Linked DNA regions of Homo sapiens: region 1 is linked to region 2. Evidence: fine-mapped expression QTL. A gene starts in region 2. The other region holds a variant in brackets. All regions are shown on one strand. Distances are from middle to middle.

Region 1 (15,170 bases), 44 kb after region 2:
TGCCCAGGCTGGAGTGCAATGGCGCCATCTCGGCTCACTGCAACCTCCGTCTTCCAGATTCCAGCTATTCTCCTGCCTCAGCCTCCCGAGTAGCTGGGATTACAGGCTTGCGCCACCATGCCCGGCTAATTTTGTAGTTTTAGTAGAGACGGGGTTTCACCATGTTGGCCAGGCTGGTCTTGAACTCCTGACTCAGGTGATCTGCCCGCCTCGGCTTCCCAAAGTGCTGGGATTAGAGGTGCGAGCCACCGAGCCCGGCCCTTTCAGCAATTTTTTTTTTTTTTTTTGAGACGGAGTCTCACTCTGTCGCCGAGACTGGAGTGCAGTGGCTCGATCTCTGCTCACTGCAAGCTCCGCCTCCTGGGTTCACGCCATTCTCCTGCCTCAGCCTCCTGAGTAGCTGGGACTACAGGTGCTCACCACCACACCCGGCTAATTTTTTTGTATTTTTTTTTTTTAGTAGAGACAGGGTTTCACCGTGTTAGCCAGGATGGTCTTGATCTCCTGACCTCGTGATCTGCCTGCCTCGGCCTCCCAAAGTGCTGGATTTACAGGCGTCAGCAACTGCGCCCGGCTGCTTGCAGCAATTTTTTAAGATGACAAAATAAAACAGAAAATTTCAGAATATATCCCACTACAAAATACAAATTAAGCAGCATGTGGTGGTGGCAGGGCCTGTACTCTCAGCTACTTGGGAGGCTGAGGCAGGACCACTGCTTGATGCCAGGAGTTCAAGACCATCCTGGGCAACATAATGGAACCCCATCTCTACCAAAAAAATTTTTTAAACTAGCCAGGCATGGTGATGTGCACTTGTAGTCCCAGCTACTTAGGAGGCTGACGTAAAAAGATTGCTTGAGCCCGGGAGGTTGAAGGTGCAGTAAGCCATGACTGCACCACTCCAGCCTGAGTGACAATGTAAGACAGGGTCTCGCTCTGTCACCCAGGCTGGTCTCAAACTCCTGGGCTCAAGCCCTATATATTTTTACTGTGGGTCAAGGTAAGGAAAAACAGCCACCGTTTGGTAAATGCTGCCAACCTTTTTTTTTTTTTTTTTTTTTAAATTTTTAGAGGGAGGGTCTCACTATGTTGCCCAGGATGGTCTTAAACTCCTGGGCTGAAGCAATCCTCCTGCCTCAGTCTTCCAAAATGCTGGGATTACAGGCATGAGCCACCTCTACGGGCCTGCCAACCTCTTTTATGTCATGGCACACACAGAAAATGATTTGTTCAGTGAAAATGGTATTTATTTGGCTCACTGGGGCAAACAGATTCATCTTATTGGGAGTCAAGAGGCGACCAGGCGGGGGCGGTGGCTCATACCTGTAATCCTAACACTTTCGGGAGTGTTAGGTGGGCGGATGACTTGAGGTCAGGAATTTGAGACCAGCTTGGCCAACATGGTGAAACCCCATCTCTACTAAAAATACAAAGATTAGCTGGGCGTGGTGGCACGATTCTGTAGTCCCAGCTACTCTGGAGGCTGAGGCATGAGAATTGCTTGAACCCGGGAGGCGGAGGCTGCAGTGAGCAGAGATCATGTCAATGCACTCCACCCCAGGAGACGGGCAAGACCCTGTATCAAAAATAAATACATAAATAATAAATAAAATTATAAACAGAAAAAACAGGTGACCAGTTCAGGGGCTCAGCTGCCCCAGACCTTGCCTGCTGGTATCTGAGGCCAACCTGCACTCCTCCTTAGCGCACCGCTAAGATGTGCTCCAGTGTGGAGAATATGAGCATCATACTGCAGTGAAAAAGAGATCTGGAGACAGGCAGACAGGAGTATGAGGCCAGAGGAGAGGTCTGAGTACTGAGACCTGGGCCCAGGGGAGCCTCCTGCTGCTCACCTGGTTCAGCAATAAACCATTGTTGAAGTCTTCGGTTTGAGTTTTGAGTTCTGGTACGTTCCAGCCCCAAAGTCATGGGAGCCGCCCAGGAAGTGTGTTCACATGGTCATATGTTTTTGTAAAACTTAGAAATTCTGGACATTGTAGCCGGAGCTGGTCAAGCTTGTTATCTCTGCACTGCAACTTCCTCTTCTTGTCATTTCCCCTCCTGTCAGGAGGCCTCACTGTAGCCACAGTATTGTGAATGAATAATTGTGGGGTTGTTTTTTTTTTTTGAGTTAGAGCTTTCCTCTCGTTGCCCAGGCTGGAGTGCAGTGGCTTGATCTCAGCTCACTGCAACCTCCGTCTCCAGGGTTCAAGCGATTCTCCTGCCTCAGCCTCCCGAGTAGCTGGGATTACAGGTGACCGCTACCACACCCAGCTAATTTTTTGTATTTTTAGTAAAGACGGGGTTTCACCACGTTGGCCAGGCTGGTCTCAAATTCCTGACCTCAGGTGATCCACCTTCCTCAGCCTCCCAAAGTGCTGGGATTACAGGCATGAGCCACTGCGCCCGGCCTGTGTATTTTATTTCTTAAAAAGAGCCTCCAGATCACTTGAGTCCAGGAGTTCCAAGGAAGCAGTGAGCTATGATCGCACCTGGGTGACAGAATGAGACCCTGTCTCAAAAAACAAAAACATAAACAACCAAGACAGCCTCCAAAATTGTATAAGCTTCAAGGCCTGGCAAAACCTGAACTTGCTCCTGTCTCCAACGTATTTGGCAAAGGGGTGGGAGAGGGGTGGGCAGGTTGTCCCCATCTTCCCATTTATGGTCCTTAGAGCAGCCAATGCTGCCTGCTCTTTGCTGGGGGGATTTTCCTTTTTTTCTTTTTCTTTTCTTTGAGACAGAATCTTCCTTTGTTGCCCAGGCTGGAGTGCACTGGGACGATCTTGGCTCACTGAAACCTTCGCCTCTCAGGTTCAAACAATTCTCATGTCTCAGCCTCCCTATTAGCTGGGATTACAGGAACCACGCCACCATGCACAACTAATTTTTGTATTTTTGCGTTTTTTTTTTTTTTTTTGGGATGGAGTTTTGCTCTTGTTGCCCAAGCTGGAGTGCAATGGCGTGATCTCGGCTCACTGCAACCTCCACCTCCCAGGTTCAAGGGATTCTCCTGCCGCAGCCTCCCGAGTAGTTGGGATTACAGGCGCGCGGATTACAGGCGCTTACAGGCGCACAACACCACACCCGGCTAGTTTTTGGTATTTTTTAGTAGAAACGGGGTTTCTCCATGTTAGCCAGCTGGTCTTGAACTCCTGACCTCAGGTAATCCGCCGACCTTGGCCTCCCAAAGTGCTGGGATTACAGGTGTGAGCCACCGCGCCCGGCCTAATTTTTGTATTTTTATAGAGATGGGATTTTGCCATGTAGTCCAGGCTGGTCTCAAACTCCTGGCCTCAAGTGATCCACCCACCTTGGCCTCCCAAAGTGCTGGGATTACAGGCACGGCACCAGGCCTGGATTTTGCTTTTCTTTTTCTTTTTTCTGAGATGGAGTCTTGCTCTGTCGCCTAGGCTGGAATGCAGTGGCATGATCTTGGCTCACTGTAACATCTGCCTCCCAGGTTCAAGCGATTCTCCTGCCTCAGCCTCCCGAGTAGCTGGGATTACAGGTGCCCGCCACCATGCCCGGCTAATTTTTGTATTTTTAGTAGAGATGGAGTTTCACCATGTTGGCCAGGCTGGTCTTGAACTCCTGACCTCAGGTGATCCACCTGCCTTGGCCTCCCAAAGTGCTGGAATTTGGCTCACGCCTTTGGCGTGAGCCACAAACCCCGGCCTGCTTTTCTTTTTTAAATTTACATATTATTTATTTATTTTTATTTTATTTTATTTTGAGATGGAGTCTCACTCTGTCACCCAGGCTGGAGTGCAGTGGCGCAATCTCAGATCACTGCAAGCTCTGCCTCCCGGGTTCACGCCATTCTCCTGCCTCAGCCTCCCAAGTAGCTGGGACTACAGCCGCCCGCCACCACGTCCGGCTAATTTTTTTTTTTTTTTTGTATTTTTAATAAGGGGTTTCACTCTGTTAGCCAGGATGGTCTCGATCTCCTGACCTCGTGATCCGCCCGCCTCGGCCTCCCAGAGTGCTGGGATTACAGGCGTGAGCCACGCGCCCGGCCTAAATTTATATTTTAAACGCACATAGGAAAAAAAAATTAAACAGTACCAAAGAGTACAATGCATACTGACATACCGAGTCACCAATCCACCCCAAATTCCTAGACCCATGTCTCAAAAATGCCACAGACATTTTCTGATGGATCTTTGCAAAAATTTTCTATCTAGATCCTATTTTTTATACAAATACAACTATATGTATACAGCATTCTGTGCTTAATAACCCTTGATGATCTTCCCATATCAGCACATAGTCTGACTTAATTCTTTTTAAAGACTGCAGAGATTGCAGGCGCCAAAATACATCTAACCATTGGGGCAGATTTCATTATGACTATCCTTAACCCACTGTACTTGTCCCGCAAGGTCCAACCTGGTATTGCACAGGACCTCACAGAACGCTGCTGTTTCCTGATCTTTTCTAGTGAGGCAGCTTTGTTTCTTCACATAGGAGACCTCCCTGGAAAGCGAAGTCAAGCAGGTGGATCTAGAGGTTGGCCACCACAGTCAGGAAAGCAGCTGTCTACTGAAAAGCAAACTCTAATTCCTTAACATTAACGAGTACCGGAACTACCACGTGGGAAGTGCAGCCCCCTCTCTCCGCCTCACGGATTCAGCTCGGAGGTGCAGGGGTTTGGTGGGGGGCGGTTAGGGAATGACAGCTGCCCCGTGGAGGACGCCCAGGGCTGGGTCACGAGCTGACAGGAGTCAGCCTTATTCTGTAAATCCTAGTTATCAGGATGCCGGTTTCGCGCCGTGCCCAGTCCCACTCAGCCTTCAGTCTTCCGGCCGGGACCCCGCTGGGCGCTAAGGGGGGAGCGGCGCCACCGCGAGGCCGGAGAGGGGGCTGCGAGGGGCGCCCGGCCGGCCTGCGAACGTGGTGGGAGCCAGGCGGGGCACACGGCCTCCCCTTCCCATGAGGGACTCTCCCCGCCCCCCGGGCTCAGCGCTGGGAGTGGTGAGATGGATGGCGGGGTGATCCGACGCCGCCAGCCCACCGCGTCCCCAAGAGCCGGGGCCTCCGGCTCAGCTAAACGCCCCAGAGTCACGCATGCGCCCCATAAACGTCTGCTGAGTGAACGAAAGCTCCCCATCCACAAGGGGACAGCTCGGCGCTCCCACGCCATGTCCAGGTCGCATTCGACCAGCAGGACTTCCCTTAACGCGCTGCCGGAGTCCCCAAGATCGCGCCCCTGCCAGGAGCGGAACTGTTTATTTCCGTCCGGCTGAAGAGGCGGGGTGGGGATGGCACAAGCCGATTGGTTACGCAAAATGTGGAACCAATTCAGGCCTATGATCCAGGAGACTACAAGTTCCAGAATGCATCCTTCCTCCAGCATAGGGACAGGCCGAGGCTGCGGGGGCGTTGCCTGCTGGGAATTGTAGTCTTCATCTTGTTTGTTGCGCAGGAGGAACTGGAAGGAGGGAGTAAACTATTACCACGTGACGTTCGGGTCAGGTGTTTGGGCCAGCCTCCGCACTCGAGCTTTGATTGGCTGACTCTAATAAGAAGACGCCACTAGGGGCGGGGCGAAGAGGGGCGCAAGCTCATTGCGTTTTGAGTCTCGGGACCCCTGTTGGAGAGACTATGGCGCTCAACAAGAATCACTCGGAGGGCGGCGGAGTGATCGTCAATAACACCGAGAGGTGAAAACACTGCGGAAGGATCCTGGAGGACCAAAGTTCGGGTGTCGAGGAAGTGGGCGGTGGGTGGTGGGTGGTGGGGAATAAGCCCCTGAAGAGGGAGCACTGATGGAGTGAGGTTGGTGGGGAACGGCTGGGGGCGGGGTTGGAGGAAGGTGGGTGGGCCGTGGGGGAGAGCCCGGGAGGTTGTGATCAGCTGGGAGGCGGGGGTGGGACGTCTGCATGGGGACCTGGTATGGGGCCCCCGGTGGGGCCTAGGGGTGATTCTTGAACCCCTTCCCAGACTTGTGATTTCAGTAGCTGGGAGGAGCCCCAAACAAAAATAATTGTCACTTATTGGATGTCTACAACGTTACTACGTGTCAGGCTCTGCGCCTTTTCTACCTTATTTAATAAATTCTGTGCAGTATAATCTACTACTGTCCACATTTCACAGGTAGGGAAAGTGGAGGGCAGAAAGGTTAAGTAACTTGCCCGAGATCGCAACTGTGTAAGTAACAGAGGTGGTAATTCCAGGAAAGGAGTCTTGACTCCAAAGTTAATAGGATTAACCACCAGCATACAGGCTTCCAGTATGTTCCAGAACTGTTCAGGTTCCCGGTAAAAAACTGAGGTCCCAGAGGTGAAATTAAACAGATGACGTTTGTCAGGTGTCTAACAGTTCCTGGCACTGTGTGGGTCCGTAGTCATTCCCTTGCCTCTCTCTTGAATGCCTGTTGGTTTGGGTCACCTCGGAAGGCAGAGCTCTCCTAATTCAAGGTTCTTTCCACTCCATCCTCCCCACCCCTTGCTCATTGCATCCTGTCTCTCCTCCAGTCTCTGCCAAGAGAAGCCTTAAATGGCCTCTGTCTCCTTTTGTTCCTTGGGTATTGAAAATCAGACCAGCCAGCCCTGGGTTGAACTATGCCGACCCTGAATTGCCTCTTGAAGGCAGAAGGAGCTTAGGAGGCACCTGAGTCCCCAAAGGAGACATCGTGGAGTCAGAGCCCTGTACCCAGCTAAGGCCAGCATCCAGCTGCCCTGTGACTTGGGAATGTTTGATGAGTCAGAGGAAAATGCCTAGAGTGACCCAGCATGCTCACTTTCCCTCTATCTTACCCGCTCAGAGTTTCATGGGCCCAGCCTGTTGCTGGTAATTCCTTCTTTTCTCTGAGCAGTACTTCTCTTCTCTTTTTTTTTTTTTTTTTTTTTTTTTTTTAGATGGAGGCTTGCTCTGTCGCCCAGGCTGGAGTGCAGTGGCACGATCTCAGCTCACTGCAACCTCCGCCTCCTGGGTTCAAGCGATTATCCTGCCTCAGCCTCCCCAGTAGTTGGCATTACAGGCACCCGCCACTACACCCAGCTAATTTTTTGTATTTTTAGTAGACATAGGGTTTCACCATGTTGGGCAGGCTGGTCTCGAACTCCTGACCTCGTGATCCACCCTCCTCGGCCTCCCAAAGTATTGGGATTACAGGAGTGAGCCACCGCGCCCAGCCATTTTCCTTTGCTTATACCAGTTGTTTCCCACTTACCCTTCCCCAGTCAGAGAAAGTTGTGATATATGGGGGGAGGCAGAAGACAAACAGAACCGTGTGAACCTTTTTATCATGTAATCAGAGACACCTCACACTGTTTTGTTGCATCTCTGTGTGTGAGTCAGTTCCCAGGCCTGGCCAGCTTTTCGTGCCATTTGGCAACATCTCTGGGGACTGTTTTTCTTTCTGTCTCTGTGGAACTTTCTGAGACAAGAATGTATCTATCCTGCTCGGCCTTCTACCTGGCTTAGGGCTCAGTCCTGCTAAGTAAGGTGTGCCTTCAGCCTGCTGTTTTAGAAAGTGCTTCAGCCTGCTGTCTGAAAAAGTTGTATCTATAACAATTGAAGTGTTAAGTCCAGTGTCCAAAATTTGATAATTAGGCTGGGCATGGTGGCTCACGCCTGTAATCCCAGCACTTTGGGAGGCTGAGGTGGGTGGATCACTTGAGGTCAGGAGTTTGAAACCCGCCTGACCAACATGGTAAAACCTCGTCTCTACTAAACACAAAAAATTAGCCAGGCGTGGTGGCGCATGCCTGTAATCCCAGCTACTTGGAAGGCTGAGACAGGAGAATCGCTTGAACGCAGGAGGTGGAGGTTGCAGTGAGCTGAGATCACGCTATGTTGCACTGCAGCCTGGGCAACAAGAGTGAAACTCCGTCTCAAAAAAATAAAAAATTATAATTAAAATAGTGAACGTTACTCTTCAAGTCGTGAACTCCTTTGACAATGATGAAAGCTGTGGACTCTCCTCCCAGAAAAATGCACATATGACATACGTGATCATCTCAAGGGCTTCATGGACTTTCCTGCAAACCCCGCTTAAGAACCCAGGTTTAAAAGAACCCCGAAGGACGTCCTATTGTGATCTGTACAGTCATCTCTTAGACATGTTTATATTTTAGGCTTGAAAAACAAACCAGCAAAAACAGAACATCTATCACAAGGACTTAAAAGAAAATAGAAGAGTTGGCCGGGCGCAGTGGCTCACGCCTGTAATCCCTGCACTTTGGGAGGCCGAGGCAGGTGGATCACGAAGTCAGGAGATCGAGACCATCCTGGCTAACACGGTGAAACCCCGTCTCTACTAAAAATACAAAAAATTAGCCAGTCGTGGTGGCGGGCGCCTGTAGTCCCAGCTACTTGGGAGACTGAGGCAGGAGAATGGCATGAACCCAGGAGGCGGAGCTTGCAGTGAGCCGAGATCACGCCACTGCACGCCAGCCTGGGTGACAGAGTGAGACTCCGTCTCAAAAAAAAAAAAAAAAAATAAAGAAAATAGAAGAGTTAAGCCAGATTATCTAACTTGCTTGAGGGATGATGGCCTCTTCAGAGCCCTGTAGCTCTGCTACCATGTTGATCATTTGGGGGCTTTATAAGCGGGGTTTGGGAAATTTTACAGAACCCCCAACCTGCTCATTTCTTCCATGGCTATATTAATGGGTTTTTTTGTTGGTTTTTAGTTTTTTTGTAGAGATGAGGTCTCACCATGTTGCCCAGGCTGGTCTCAAACTCCTAGGCTCAAGCGATTCACCCGCCTCAGCCTCCCAAAGTGCTGGGATTACAGGTGTGGGCCACTGCGCCTGGCCCTATGAATGGCTTTATTTATTTATTTGTTTTTGAGACAGAGCTTCTCTCTTGTTGCCCAGGCTGGAGTTCAGTGGCGCCATCTCAGCTCACTGCAACCTCTGCCTCCTGGGTTCAAGCGATTCTCCCGCCTCAGCCTCCTGACTAGCTGGGATTACAGGTGCCCGCCACGGTGCCTGGCTAATTTTTTTGTATTTTTAGTAGAGATGGGGTTTCACCATGTTGGCCAGGCTGGTCTCAAACTCCTGACCAGGGGTCATCCGCTCGCCTCGGCCTCCCAAAGTGCTGGGATTACGGGCGTGAGCCACCGCGCCCAGCCCTATGAATAGTTTTAATGCCGCACTATTGAGAGGTTATGAGAGCTGACGTGCCGGGCAGCTGCTTGGGAGAAAGGCCCAGTGTCTGGGTGACGTCGCGTCTC[C/T]ATACTGTCTCATTGAGGCTTTTCCTCTTTTCTCATCACAGCATCCTAATGTCCTATGATCACGTGGAACTCACATTCAATGACATGAAGAACGTGCCAGAAGCCTTCAAAGGGACCAAGAAAGGCACTGTCTACCTTACCCCTTACCGGGTGAGTTGCACAGCAGGGCAGTTGGTTGAGAGGCTTGTTGCTGTTGGAGGTGACGTGAGTCTTAGTCTCAGGTCTGCCTCAGCCTCATGAGTCAGGTGGCCTCTGAATCCTGGTGAGTGTTAGTGCTTCACTCTGCCTGTTTCTCTGTCACATGCTCCTGGATTCCAGAATCACCAGGCTCTTTGTGTAACTGACCTGACCACTGGGCAGTGAACCCATGTCAATTCCAGAGCCGCTGCTGCAAAATCTCTATAGAGTTGGATGCAGCCGCTGGCATGACTTGGGCCTGGAGGCCAGACTATTATTATTAATATTTTGTTTTCTGTGAGAGTAGCCCATGAAGCCCTGTGTGTATCCAGAGTGAGAAATCCAGTAAACAGGGTACAGTTGCATGGCACGGCCTCCGGACTGGGCAGAGAGCCCGGTACCACCCCGCAGAATGACAAATGCCAGGCTGCAGAATGGGCCCTGCCTGAGAGTTACCCACGTGGACTCTGAGAGGTTGAGAAATACAAATGGATGTTCTTGGAAAAGGATTGCTGCCTGTGGCTACTCAAGATTTAGACTCAAAGACAGGCTGGTGCGGAGGCTCATGCCTGTAATCCCAGCACTCTGGGAGGCCAAGGTAGGCAGGCCACTTGAACTCAGGAGTTCGAGACCAGCCTGGGCAACATGGCAAAACCCCATCTCTACAAAAAATACAAAAATTAGCTGGGTGTGGTGGCACATGCCTCTAGTCTCAGCTACCCGAGAGGTAAGGTGGAGAATAACTGGAGCCTGGAGAGGTTGAGGCTGCAGTGAGCTGGGATCATGCCACTGGATTCTAGCCTGGGCAACAGAGTGAGACCCTGCCTAAAAAAAAAAGACTTAGACTCAAAGACAGCTGGAAGAAGAGGAGCACATTTTCAAGTTTTAATCTCCATGACTTCACAAAGACAGGAGAGTCTCAAAACCCCATCTCTGGAGGCTCAACTTGGCACCTTCAGTCACAGATAAAAGTCGTGGGTTTAAAACCCTGGCTGGGGCCGGGTGCGGTGGCTCATGCCTGTAATCCCAGCACTTTGGGAGGCCGAGGCGGGCGGATCATGAGGTCAGGAGATCGAGACCATCCTGGCTAACACGGTGAAACCCCATCTCTCCTAAAACTACAAAAAATTAGCCGGGCATGGTGGCGGGCACCTGTAGTCCCAGCTACTCAGGAGGCTGAGGCAGGAGAATGGCGTGAACCCGGGAGGCGGAGCTTGCAGCGAGCCAAGATCGCGCCACTGCACTCCAGCCCAGGCAACAGAGTAAGACTCCATCTCAAAAAAAAAAAAAGAAAAGAAAAGAAAAAATAAAACCCAAGGGTTTCTCCAGGCACAGGCTCCAGGAGAGCTCTTGTTGCTGTTTATAGCCCCCCTCAATGGGAGCTAGCGACCTACTGCACCATCATTCTCAGTTCTGGAGAGTTCAGGCTGGAGACCCCCCTCTTTCAGGAACCCATCCCTGCCTTGCCTCTGCCTGTCCTTCCCTAGCTTCGTAGGCCCCTTCACTTAGGCAACACTGCCACCACCCCACCACGTCAGTGACAAAGCAGTCTGCCCTGCTCATAGATACTATCTGTGACCAGCACGTTTTTCTCCCGTGTGCGTGAGCTTGGCCTCTCCAGGCTGCGGTGAGCCCTTTCCCTTTCCAAAGCTCTCTCCAGGAGTGTCTGGCACAGAGAGAGCCATGGGGCTGCTGGACCCTGGCACTGGGAGAGGATTCGTCACTCCCAGGAAGCAGGCGGGAAGCATGGCAGCGTGGGCTGTGCTTCTAGTACTGATGGCCTCACCCTCTCTCCCTGCAGGTCATCTTTCTGTCCAAGGGCAAGGATGCCATGCAGTCCTTCATGATGCCATTTTATCTCATGAAAGACTGTGAGATCAAGCAGCCCGTATTTGGTGCAAACTACATCAAGGGAACAGTGAAGGCGGAAGCGGGAGGTAGGTGATGGGAACTCAGGGACACGCATGGGGCCTGCAGGGAGGTGTCCTGGGAACCTCTGACTGCCGCCGTGGGGGCGTCCCCTTCAGACCCTTATCGCCCTAGCCATGACCTCTTCCCAGCTCTGGGCTGCCAGCTGGTGGGGTTTGATTGCCAAGAGGTGGGGAAAATGCTGGCATGAAAGACAGCAGCTCAGATCAGCTTTTCAGAGCGTGAAGTCTGCAGAAGCCTGCGGACTGAGTCAAGATGCTTAGTGCAACTTGGCGAGCGCATACAAATTTTAGACTCAGGAAGGAGCTGCATCAGGTTCTTGAGAGGGGCCTTTTCATGAGAGCCAGGAAGAGGCAGCTGCCTCTGGGAAGCCAGAGTCACCCTGCTTTGGGGCTGGCTTTTTGGCAGGCCCCAGAGACCTCTGCATTGAACTTGCCTTCCCCTTGACACCCAGCCAGGCCCGCCCTTGCTATTGAGACACTCTTGGTCCCCCTTTGGGCAGAAGCCAGGCTAGAGGGGCCGGAGTCTGTCCTTGGGCCCCCTTAGGACGAGAGGTCTGCTCTGAATTTTAAGGTCGGCTGTTGCTGAGTGGGCTTGTTCCTGTGAAGCTGCCGAGTGCTTGACTGGGGGCGGAGAGAAACCTTGATGTGGCCTTGGCACCCGTGTACATATTGGGCCAAGGGTGGGAGGACAGGCTTGTTCCAGGAAGGAGAGGCCATTGTTCCAAAGGGGGAAGCGAGTACAGCAGGGCCAGGCCAGGCTGCAGTGCTGGCTCCTATGCAGGCAGCAGGCTGGAAACCATGGCACCAGGAAGTCCCCATCACAGTGCAGGCCCAGCCCCCGCAGGCCTCCCGGGCGTTGGATGAAGTCCTGGAGAGGAAAACAGCCATCTCTTTGGGCATAAGTTTTCTTTTCCTGTGCTGTTTATTCACTGTCCTTCCCCTTTCAGGTGGCTGGGAAGGCTCTGCTTCCTACAAGTTGACTTTCACGGCAGGGGGCGCCATTGAGTTCGGACAGCGGATGCTCCAGGTGGCATCTCAAGGTATCCAGGCTCCGAAGATTAGGGGCTAAAGACACACTAAACATGTAGGGGTTTGGTATGAGTTTGCTTCCTTTTCGTTTTGCTTTTTCAAGAACTCAAGAGGTAAGTGTTTGGGCACCAGGCTGACCAGGCCTAGGAGTTGGGAAGGAAAGCTGTCATTGGCATCAGCTCTGTCCTGTACCTCAGAGACTGCGTTTCCCTGCCTGGGGCAGGTGGATGACGTTTTGACAAAGCTGTTTGGACTCAAGGACACTTTACTATGGCCTCATAAAACAAACACTAAACCAACCATTCGACTGCGGTTCCGCAGCCATTGAAAATGACCGAGGGATGGGCCAGCAGACATCCTCCGCCAGCTCACTCCTACCCCAGCCCTGAGCCTCCCTCCCGGCCTCTGTCCACCCTCCAGCCTTGCCCTTGACCTCCCTTGCCTTCCCCTGGCTCTGACCTCTCCCGTCCTCTCTCATCCCTGACCAAGGTGGCCCCCCGAGTATGGGTGGAGGGTGGAGTGGGATGGACAGAGGATGTCTGCGGGGCACATTCCTGAGACCCAGTAGCTCCCATCTGCAGGCAGCGGGGCTGCCCTCTCCCCGCCCCAAGGCAGGCCACGCTCATTTCTCTTTCCCCTTGTACTCGTAGCCTCCAGAGGTGAAGTCCCCAGTGGAGCCTATGGCTACTCTTACATGCCCAGCGGGGCCTATGTCTATCCCCCGCCAGTCGCCAATGGAATGTACCCCTGCCCTCCTGGCTACCCCTATCCACCGCCCCCACCTGGTGAGTGTGTCCTTTGCTGCCCCCACTCCCCTCATGAGCCCACCTACCCAGGCTCCCCCCAGGCCAGGGAGACTTTATTCCTTGAGCTGCTTCAGGACCAACGAAGGAGCTGGAGAGGCCCCCCTCACCCGGGAGGGGGCCGCAGCCGGGTGCTCACCATGTCCTTGTTACTCTCTCACCGAGCAGAGTTCTATCCAGGACCCCCCATGATGGACGGGGCCATGGGATACGTGCAGCCCCCACCACCGCCCTACCCTGGGCCCATGGAACCTCCGGTCAGCGGCCCCGATGTCCCCTCCACTCCTGCAGGTGAGGGCCCTTGGGTGCTGGCAGCCCTTCGGGACCAGCCCTCTCCTCCCCGATGTCGCACAGAGAGCCTCAGAATGGCCAGAGACTGCTGAGAGCCGCAGATGATGGATGACCCCTGGACTACCCCAGGGGCCCAGCAGGGCTGTGGCCTGGTGGAGCGGAGCTAGATTCTGGCCCCACCCCCATCCCTTAGCTATCCATGTGCCCTGGGCGGGGAAGGTCACCCTGTGTGCCTCTCGATCCTCTCATCTACACTCAGCTGGTCGGTCACAGTGGCACCTGGGGCATTGGCTCAAGGATTAGATGAGGTGAGACATGCGATGGGCCTGGAAAGGACCGTGCCAGCGCGTGGCATGTGCTCAGGAAACCTCACCTGCTGCTCTCATTGGTGGAACTGGACCCCCAGCACCAGCTGCCCCGAGCCATGGGGGCCCGGGGTCTCTTAGCTGAGCTCAGGGGGAGGAGAACTTGTCACCGACACCAGGTGTGTTTGCTCTCACAGCCGAAGCCAAGGCCGCAGAAGCAGCCGCCAGCGCCTATTACAACCCAGGCAATCCTCACAACGTCTACATGCCCACGGTGAGAGGGCTTGGCAGTGCCGGTGCAGCCCCACAGCCGCAGATGCTGGGAGCCGCAGGGGGATGACCGCACCATGTTTTAAACCTTCTAATGCAAGTCTCTCCTTTCTCCCTTCTTTAGAGCCAGCCGCCGCCACCTCCCTACTACCCACCGGAAGATAAGAAGACCCAGTAGGCCCTCCTGCCTCCCTGCCTCCCACCCTCATCTCTCTACCCTACCCCTCCCATCGGGGCTGTGCTGGGGCTTGGGGAGGGGAGGGGGCGCCTTGTTCTCCCTCCAGGTCTGATCATAAACAATTACCAGGAACTAGCATTGTGGGACATTAGGGCCCCCGGCCTCGGGAGAGGTGCCGCCCAGCTTCCCATGCCAGCCCGGAGCCCACAGTGCTGCCCAGCGTACCTCCCTCACCGTCTGGGGCTCTTCTGGGAGCACGGAGCATCCCCTGTTCCTGTTTCACTCTCAGCTTCTCCCCTCGAAGGGACTCTCTGGCCACCTCCTCCACCGCAGTCCAGCTCCCTCAGTCTGGCACCCACTGCTACACTCAGCCTCATGAGCCACTTCAGACCAGCCAGGTGTCTTCCCGGGCCCTGCCAGACCCTGCTCACATTCCCTCTGCTGGTCTGTGCTGGTCTCAGAAGGCCACCGCGCCCGCATTCCACTCAGCCAGGGTCCAGCTGCAGCCCCCGCCACCCTTCCTTCCCTTCCCTGTCCTGGGTCATGTTGTTGCCACCCTGTGTGACTTTTGAAGCTGTAAAATGAGCTTCCAGGGCTTGGGTGGCGTCGGGGCAGGGCCGCCGAGGCTGGGAGGAAGCCCTTCTGCCTTTTGCTGGTGTTTCTGGAATTTGCTTTCCCTCACCTCTCACTTCCTTCTAGAAGGAGCTTCCTGACTGGAACCAGAGAATGCATGTCTGTCCACTTGGTGGCTGCTGGGTGGGGCCGGGAACAAGGGCCCCTGACCCTGTGTGCTGGCCGGGACCTGCCACCAGCCCCCCAGCCTGCTTCTTCCCCTTAAGCTTTGTGCCCCTGGATGCGCTAACATTCACTCTTGTTTGTCCCTGGACTGGCCATGAAGTGAGGAGATGGTTATTTAAAGAGAATTCCCTATTTATTTGACAAAAAATCCAGTTAATATATTAATGTGAAATAAACCCTGTTTGCACCTCGATTTGTTTG
Region 2 (8,372 bases):
GCCAGATGCTGAGTACCTCCACTGGCTGCTGTGAGTACTGGAGTACTGGGGGTAGGGGGTGCTGCCCAGGCGGGAAGAGGAGCTGGGAGCCTGGACTGAGCTGCTCCTGAGTTTCATGGACTACCCATGGGACCTTGAATTCACCTGCCACCTCTGCCTCCTGAGGGTGTTAGGGGCCCTGGGATCCACGTGTCTACTTGAAGACAGCTACAGGAGACAAAGTTTGCAGTAGGCCTCGGTCAGTCCCCACAAGCCTCCTCATCTTTTCTTTTCTTTTTTTTTTTTTTTTTTGAGACAGGGTCTCACTCTGTCCCCCAGGCTGGAGTACAGTGGTGCAATCATGGCTAATTGCAGCCGCTAACTCCTGGGCTCAGGTGCTCTTCCCACCTCAGTCTCCTGAGTAGCTGGGACTACAGGTGCAAACCACTACACCCAGCTAATTTTTGTATTTTTTTATAGAGACAGGGTTTCACCATGTTGCCCAGGCTGGTCTCCTGAGCTCAAGCGATCTGCCCGCCTCCGCCTCCCAAAGTGCTAGGATTATAAGCGTGAGCCACCATGCCTGGGCCCTTCGTCTCTAAACTCATTTCTTCACCTGTAAAACTGGGATAATGGCACCACATGCCTTACTCAGCGTGAGGTGGACTGTGACAGTCACGTGGGAGAAGGAGCGGGAGAGGCCTAGCAGCTGTGGCGTCCCCCAGGTGCTCCTTGAACCACTGGGCGCTCCTTCCCTGGGCCCAGACTGGGCGGCCTTCCATCTTGGTAGCTTTTGGCTCTGAACACCAGGCCAGGGGGCAGAGGTCAGGCCAGTGACCCCAACTTTGAGCCTTCTGGTTAACTGGGGACAGTGACTGGGAGGCTGGTTTCCGTCATTTTTATTCAACTGTTACCAGCCTATGCGGCAGGACCCTCTGGGGATTTGTGCCTGAGGCGTTGGCCGCCCCTGTGCCAGGCTGGGCACACACTCCCTGACGAGGTCCTGGAGACTTCAGGACGCAGAGGGAAAAGCAGCCAAAAGTGGCCTGGCTTTCTAGCCTCAGTGACTGTGGCGGACCCACCGGCTCCCGGGGCCTGGAAGCGGCTGCATGGCCTTGCTGTCAAGCTGATGCTCTCTGGAGCCCTGTCCCCCACTCGGAGCTCCTCCAGCCCGCTTCCCGTATTTGCAGCATGTCCCGGCGTTCACAGAGCTTGGCTGCCTCCTCTGTCCCAGGAGAGAGATGCTTAGAGCTGTCCTCCCAGGGAGTCATGTCAGCCTCTAGGGTGTGCATGGAGCTGAGGGGACACTCCTGCTGCCTCCCTGGAGTGGTAATTAACCGGGACTTTCCTCCTCCCAGAACCAACATCCCGGGTAACCGGGTGGCTGAAGGACAGGTGACGTGTCCCTACCTCCCCCCCTTCCCTGCCCGAGGCTCCGGCATCCACCGTCTTGCCTTCCTGCTCTTCAAGCAGGACCAGCCGATTGACTTCTCTGAGGACGCACGCCCCTCACCCTGGTAATCTACACCACCCACACATAACCCGGCCTCAGGCCAGCTCCCCTGGAACGGTCACTCTTGCTCAGTTCTCTCTTGACCTCAGCCTTGAGACTGGCAGAAGAGCAGGATAGGGTGCTAGCAGACTCCCAGGGGCCTCTCAGGGTTACCTGTTGGGGTGGCGGGGTGAGGGGCTCTGGTGCCCCACTCCACACTCTCATACGCTCTCTATCTTCTCATAGCTATCAGCTGGCCCAGCGGACCTTCCGCACTTTTGATTTCTACAAGAAACACCAAGAAACCATGACTCCAGCCGGCTTGTCCTTCTTCCAGTGCCGCTGGGATGACTCCGTCACCTACATCTTCCACCAGCTTCTGGGTAAGGGCCATGGGGCTGGGGCACTGGGTGGGCCTGAGCTCCCAGGCCTCGCCTGCCCTGCCAGGGAGAAGCTTTGTTAGGGGAAGGCTGCGGCAGGTCCCTGGTGGGCAGGCCTCAGCCTGAGGGGGCGCAGGCCAGCAGACCACCCCGTACCCCTCACTCTTCTTGCAGACATGCGGGAGCCGGTGTTTGAGTTCGTGCGGCCGCCCCCTTACCACCCCAAGCAGAAGCGCTTCCCCCACCGGCAGCCCCTGCGCTACCTGGACCGGTACAGGGACAGTCATGAGCCCACCTATGGCATCTACTAAGGAGCCAGAGTGTGCGCATTTCAGAGCATGGGATTGATCGGCAGCAAGAGTAAAGACACAGCTCCAGAGGCCCACACTGTGGGGTCTGGGCCCTGCCTTAGGCAGCCCCCCTCTTTGGCCCCCTCCCGTCAGGCCCAGGGCTTGGAGTGAAAGTGACTCTCAGGTGGTGGGGTGGGGAATGTGAATAAACATGATTTCTTGCCGGGCTTGGTGGCTCACACCTGTAATTCCAACACTGGGAGGCTGAGAAGGGAGGGTCGCTTGAGCCCAGGAGTTCAAGACCAGCTGGCAATATAATGAGACCCTGCCTGTATTTTTTAAAAAAAGGGATTTCTGCCATAGCTGGCCTGGGTCGGTGCTCCAGGGCCAGAGGACCCCGATGGAGCTTCATGGGTGGGAAACGGGCTGCCTCCCACCCCACTAAGTGCGTCCTCACCTCCGTCTTCTGAGGGTGTCAGGGGCCCTGGGATCCGAAGCAAAAGCAGGCAGTGGGCCAAAAACAGGTGTGGCCCAGGGAAGGGAGACATCCCAATCCAGCAGGTTCCTGAAACCCAGCTCCCCGAAAAAGTGGAGCAGAGCAGCTGGGCTCAGGAAGGAGCATTTATTGAGCACTGGCTCTGTGCCTCAGGGGGGTCCCACCGGCCCCTGGAGAGAGAGTGCCTGCCCGAGCACTGACCCTCTGCACAGGCTCCAGCCCCCACCCCATGCTTGGGAGGAGAAGCCACATTAGGTAGGCAACAGCGTGTCTCAAGAGACCTGCTCAGGGTCAGAAAACCCATGGAGTCTTGCGGCTGGATGGTTAGGTGTTTTGTTTCTCCCTTACCAAAAGCAGAAGTCTGGCTAACTAGTAGGTGGAGGGTAGATCCGTGCACTTTGTCCAGAAAGAAACTTCGTCTATGGCCGCACAGAGGACGCAGTGCTTGCTGCAGCAGTGAGAGCTCGTGCCGCCTCAACATCAGCCCAGCTTGGTTAGAAAGGCCGTACTCTCCTGGGGTTCCCCCTGGCCTGATACACACTGTCAGGTAGGTGGGCGCTAGGCCCCAGACCCGCCTTGCCTGCTCAGCTTCAGGGGAAATGCTGGAGTGCCTGTAAATACTGAGGCTGCAGATCAGCTTGGACCCCAGGCAAGGAACTCTCCCCAGCGGAGGGCAGCAGGAAGAGGGGATGCTGATTGCAGATGAAAGCTGGTTTGTGTATTCATTCAGGGCCATTTGAAAAATACCAGTTAACTGGTCCCTGTCTCTTGGTGACCAGACATTTCCATCTCGCTGTTTACTTTAAAAGAACCAAAATTACGTGTAGCCCAGAGAAGGGAGACACCCCAGTCTGGCAAGTGTCCGAAACCCAGCTCCAGGAAAAAGTGCAGCAGTGCTCGGGTCTGCAGGGAGCCCGCCAGCCCGTTTCATCGCCAAGCCCCGGGGGATTGTTGGGGGTGGGGGTCTATGCTGTTAGGCGACTGGCAGATGAGTCCAGAAGAGGTTCCGCGCGGCCCGTGGTCAGAAGCCCGGAGTCCTGGCGGGGTTTTCGAGCCTCTGGTCTCCAGGACCTGGGCTGAAGGCCCAGGGGGGTGGGATGGACCCGCCAGGCTGGGACCCTAGAGAGCCGAACTCAGCTCTCAGCCGGGGTGGCGTGGACCCTAACGGAGGGAGGGGCGCAAGGCGGGAACGCGGAACCTTCGAGCGGGCCAGGCCGAGGTGGGCAGGGGTGGCCTAGGCCCCTGCGGCGGTCGCTCGTCGAGGGTGTCAGAGAAGGGCCTGCCGCCCCCCTCCGCCTTCCCGGGCGCGGATCTCGCCCCGCCCCGCCCGGATCTCGCCCCGCCCCGCGTTAGCCACGCCCAGGCGCCCTCAGCGCGCGAGGCCCGCGGTCCCTTTAAGACGCCCGGGGCCCGCCTGGCTCTCGCCGCCGCCGGGCCATGGCCGCGCAGCTGCTGGAGGAGAAGCTGACCTGCGCCATCTGCCTGGGGCTCTACCAGGACCCAGTGACGCTGCCCTGCGGCCACAACTTCTGCGGGGCCTGCATCCGGGACTGGTGGGACCGCTGCGGAAAGGCGTGCCCCGAGTGCCGGGAGCCCTTTCCCGACGGCGCCGAGCTGCGCCGCAACGTGGCCCTCAGCGGCGTGCTGGAGGTGGTGCGCGCCGGGCCCGCCCGGGATCCCGGCCCCGATCCCGGCCCCGGCCCCGACCCTGCCGCGCGCTGCCCCCGCCACGGGCGGCCGCTGGAGCTCTTCTGCCGGACCGAGGGCCGCTGTGTGTGCAGCGTGTGCACCGTGCGCGAGTGTCGCCTCCACGAGCGGGCGCTGCTGGATGCCGAGCGCCTCAAGCGCGAGGTGACGCATCCGCCGGGAGCGGGAGGGGTCCGGACCCGCCGCAGCCTGGCCACCGCCGGGTGACTCCTGCGGGCCGCGCCCTGCTCTCTCGGGCACCCGGCGGGGGCGGGGAGCCTCATCTGTAAGGGGCTTCTCCCAACCTGGGAGCTGATTATAAAAGTCGTGGGTCTGCCAGGCGCAGTGGCTCACGACTGTAATCCCAGCACTTTGGGAGGCCGAGGCGGGCGGATCACGAGGTCAGGAGATCGAGACCATCCTGGCTAACACGGTGAAACCCGGTCTCTACTAAAAATACAAAAAGTTAGCCGGGCGTGGTGGCGGGCGCCTGTAGTCCCATCTACTCGGGAGGCTGAGGCAGGAGAATGGCGTGAACCCGGGAAGTGGAGCTTGCAGTAAGCCGAGATCGTGCCACTGCACTCCAGTCTGGGCGACAGAGCGAGACTCCGTCTCAGAAAATAAACAAACAAAAAATCGTGGGTCTGTGCATCAGACTGGGATATGCAGCCCGGCCAGTGACACAGGGTGGGTCTCAGAAGCTGCTCGGTGCCCTCTGGATGAACAAAGCCTGGGCGTGAGGCAGCAGCTCCCTGCTCCGTGCCCAAGCGCTAGAGAACCGTCGTGTGTCTCCTGCGCTCCGAGAGCCTCCTTTCATTCGCTGTGCGGGGTTGTGGAGGGCGAGGGGGCTATGGGGGCTGTTGGTAAATGGATCAGACGAGCTCCCTGCCCTTAAGAGACTTAGAATCCACTTAAGAAGTCAGTGTTCCAGTAAGGCGTGAATGTATTATTACAAAATGCAGTGAGGAAAGCACATGGCATGTGATAGAGGGGTTGGGGTGACCCTGCTAAACGGGCCAGGAGGAGGAAGGGGAGGCCGCCTTCAGGCTGGCATGTGAGGATTGAGGAAGCGCAAGCCAGGAGAAAGACCTGGGGAAGAGCATTCTAGGCAGAGGAATCAGCCTGGTCCCGTCTCTGGGATGGGAAAGAACTGGGCACGCGGGGTCCCTAGTGGCAGATTTGTGCCACTGAGATCTGTGGGCCAGGCCCTGGGGGTCAGCAGGGGCAGGATCGGGCAGGGTCCTGGGGGAGTCTGGCTCTTACTGTAGGGTCATGGGGGCCATTATAGGCTTGGAAGCAGGTTGGCACATGATCAGATTTGGGCTTCATGGAGACTGATCACCTGGCTGGGGGCTGAAGGGGGCAGGATGTAAGACCCGAATCGGGTAGGAGTGCAGGGAGGCAAAGAACCAGCTGGGGATCAGGGAAGGGAGACCAAGATGGAGGAGGAGATGAGAAACGCTGAGGGGAAGTGGTACCTTGTGGAGGCGAAAGCAGGCCAGAGGGGACACGGGGGACAGCAGAGAGGGCGGCAAGGGAGACACCTGGGTTTCTGTCTTGAGCACGCAGGTGGCTGGGGTGCTATGTCCTGAGAGGCGTAGGTGGAGGGCAGAGTTTGGCCTTGGACATATAGAGGTCACAGTGGCCAGTGGGACAAACCAGGGGACGGGCCTGTGGCACCTGGGACCCTGGCCCCAGCCCTGCCGCGCGCTGACCCCGCCCCGGGCAGCTGCTGGAGCTCTTCTGCCAGACCAAGGGCTGTTGTGTTTGCAGCTTGTGCACCATGAGTGAGGGTCACCTCCTCAAGTGGGTGCTGCCGCCAGGAGCAGGAGGGGGCCGGACCCCCCGCAGCCTGGCCACCACCGGGTGCAGTGGCTCACGCCTGTAATCCCAGCACTTTGGGAGGCGGAGGCCGGTGGATCACGAGGTCAGGAGATTGAGACCATCCTGGCTAACATGGTGAAACCCTGTCTCTACTAAAAATACAAAAAATTAGCCAGGCCTGGTGGCGGGCGCCTGTAGTCCCAGCTCCTCTGGTGGCTGAGGCTGGAGAATGGCGTGAACCCGGGAGGCGGAGCTTGCTGTGAGCTCCAAAGCTCAGGAGCGGGGAGCTGGAAGTCGAGAGCTGGGAATCATTAGCGCTAGGAGGAAGAGAAGGTTCCAAGCTGGAGCTCCCAGGGAGATGGGGAAGGTCGGGGGAATGGCAGCCCTGTGTGGCACCTGGAGACAGGGGTGCCAGGAAGAGAACGGGCAGGATGCCCATGCTGATCAGAGGCTCAGTACGAGGACAGAAATGACCTTCAGCATCGGTACTGTGGAGGTGGTCCGTGCCCTTGACAAAACCCATTTCAGCAGCGAAGACAGGATGTGGAATCATTCGGGGACAGAGGAGGCCTGGGGCTAAGGCGTGGATGGAGGATGGCGCAGGGACGCTGGATGGGACAGGAAGGGAAGGGGTGGCCAGGAGGCCTGATGGGCAGGGAGGGATGGGAGAGTGCACGGCTGGGGGTCGGTGAGGTGGGAGGACTGAGACAGAGGTGGCTGGAACAGGAGAGGGCACGAAGGCAGTGGTCAGAGAAGGAAGAATCGATGCCTAGAATGGAGATTTTAGAGCTGGTGACAGGGCCAGGGTGAGTTCACAGGAGCGGCTGAGATGAGGTGAAGGAAAAGGGCTCCAGAGTGTTGCGGGACATTCCTTGTAGCTGCTGAAGCCGCCGAGGAGGATGAGACGAGATGTACTGCTCATGGGCGGGTGCAGAAGACTGAGCTAGGCACGGAAGTTTGAGTTGGAGGCCGGTAGATGAGGGCCATGTGGAGGAAGGGAGCGACAGGGGCAGCCAGTAGCACCAGGGGAGCCAGGATTTTGCAAGAGAGAGGGAAAGGGACATGGGGGTGCCTGTCCCTGGGGGAGGGTTGGGTGCCCTGGGAGAGCCTGCCCTCCGGCCTCCTGTGTTCCTGTGTGAAATGCTGGAGGCTGGGGGCCCGGAGGAGCTCTGGGCTTAGGAAGATCTGAGGACTTTGACCAAATTATCAACTTCTCTGAGCCCGTTTCCTCCTCTGTGATGTGGGGATAGTAATGGTCCCCATCTCAGTGCATTGCGGGAGGAGCAGAAACAAGGTGGTGAAGCTTTTGACCAGGTGCTGGGAATGGAGCCCCTGGGACCTGCGTGGTTTGTCCTGCTCTCATGAGAGCACGGTGTTTTGATTCCCAAGGGACTCAGGGAGCGCAACCGAATAGGGGTCCCTTCCTCCCCTCTCAGTCTCAAAACTAGGGCCAGGGACTGGCCGGATCCCCAGAAGAATCTAGTTTATCCAGCAAGTAACTGCCCACTTGTCAGACAGCTTTGGTGCTTTGGGAGGTCCCTGCAGTCAGCTTCTCAAGCCCCAGGGCCTCCTGGGCCACTGACCCCTCTGCAGTGAGACAGGGACCAACGGCTTTAGTGTTTGGGGTCCTCCCTGCGAGGCCTCCTGAGCCAGCATTATCGCTTTCCTGTATTGATGGGTGGGGGGTTAGGCCCAGAGAGGACAGGTGCTTGGCCTCAGCTTGCTCAGCATGCAAGAGGTAGAAATGGGAATGGAAGTTGGGTCCTGAGCCCAAGGCTTCCGCTCTGCTCAGGCACCACCCTGCTGCAGATTAGGAAGGACTTTGTCTGGACCCCCCCGGGGCACGGCCCCAACTCTCCCTGGGTTAGACCGAGGCCGGTGCTCTGGAGGCTGGCCTGGGGTGGCGTGGGGAGGGGCTGCCTGGTGTCTGCAGGCATGGTTGGTTGTCTGAGAAAGGACATCACAGCCAATCCTGGCCTTCTCTTGTTGCTTGTCCCGTGGGCCCGCACCACAGGCCCAGCTGAGAGCCAGCCTGGAGGTTACCCAGCAGCAGGCCACCCAGGCCGAAGGCCAGCTACTAGAGCTGCGCAAGCAAAGCAGCCAGATCCAGGTACGAGGCCTGTGCCTGCCCGCCCACCATGGCCTCACACTGCATCCTGGGGCGGCCACCAGCTGGTCCCTGGAACACCAGGCAGCAGGGAGCGGGGCTGAGCAGGGAGCTGGGC

What was found.
Region 1: its variant is fine-mapped to the expression of TRIM65 in whole blood (INTERVAL, PIP 0.99).

What each region holds. Positions count from the first base shown.
Region 1 is chr17:75,845,735-75,860,904 of GRCh38, reverse strand. WBP2 (WW domain binding protein 2) reads left to right here and starts at 5,570. Exons shown (of 8, transcript NM_012478.4): 1 at 5,570-5,666; 2 at 9,229-9,337; 3 at 11,166-11,301; 4 at 12,243-12,335; 5 at 12,975-13,109; 6 at 13,296-13,418; 7 at 13,921-13,997; 8 at 14,118-15,170. The coding sequence starts at 5,608. The coding sequence ends at 14,171. RefSeq lists enhancers at 3,951-4,746, 5,355-5,484 and a silencer at 4,815-4,984. The variant C/T (reference allele first, on the strand shown) is at 9,188.
Region 2 is chr17:75,892,640-75,901,011 of GRCh38, reverse strand. It overlaps TRIM65 (tripartite motif containing 65), which reads left to right and starts at 4,061. Exons shown (of 6, transcript NM_173547.4): 1 at 4,061-4,488; 2 at 8,162-8,257. The coding sequence starts at 4,075. MRPL38 (mitochondrial ribosomal protein L38) reads left to right here. Exons shown (of 9, transcript NM_032478.4): 6 at 1-30; 7 at 1,338-1,496; 8 at 1,718-1,854; 9 at 2,026-2,368. The coding sequence ends at 2,162. RefSeq lists enhancers at 2,927-3,634, 3,635-4,344 and silencers at 3,712-4,191, 4,222-4,791.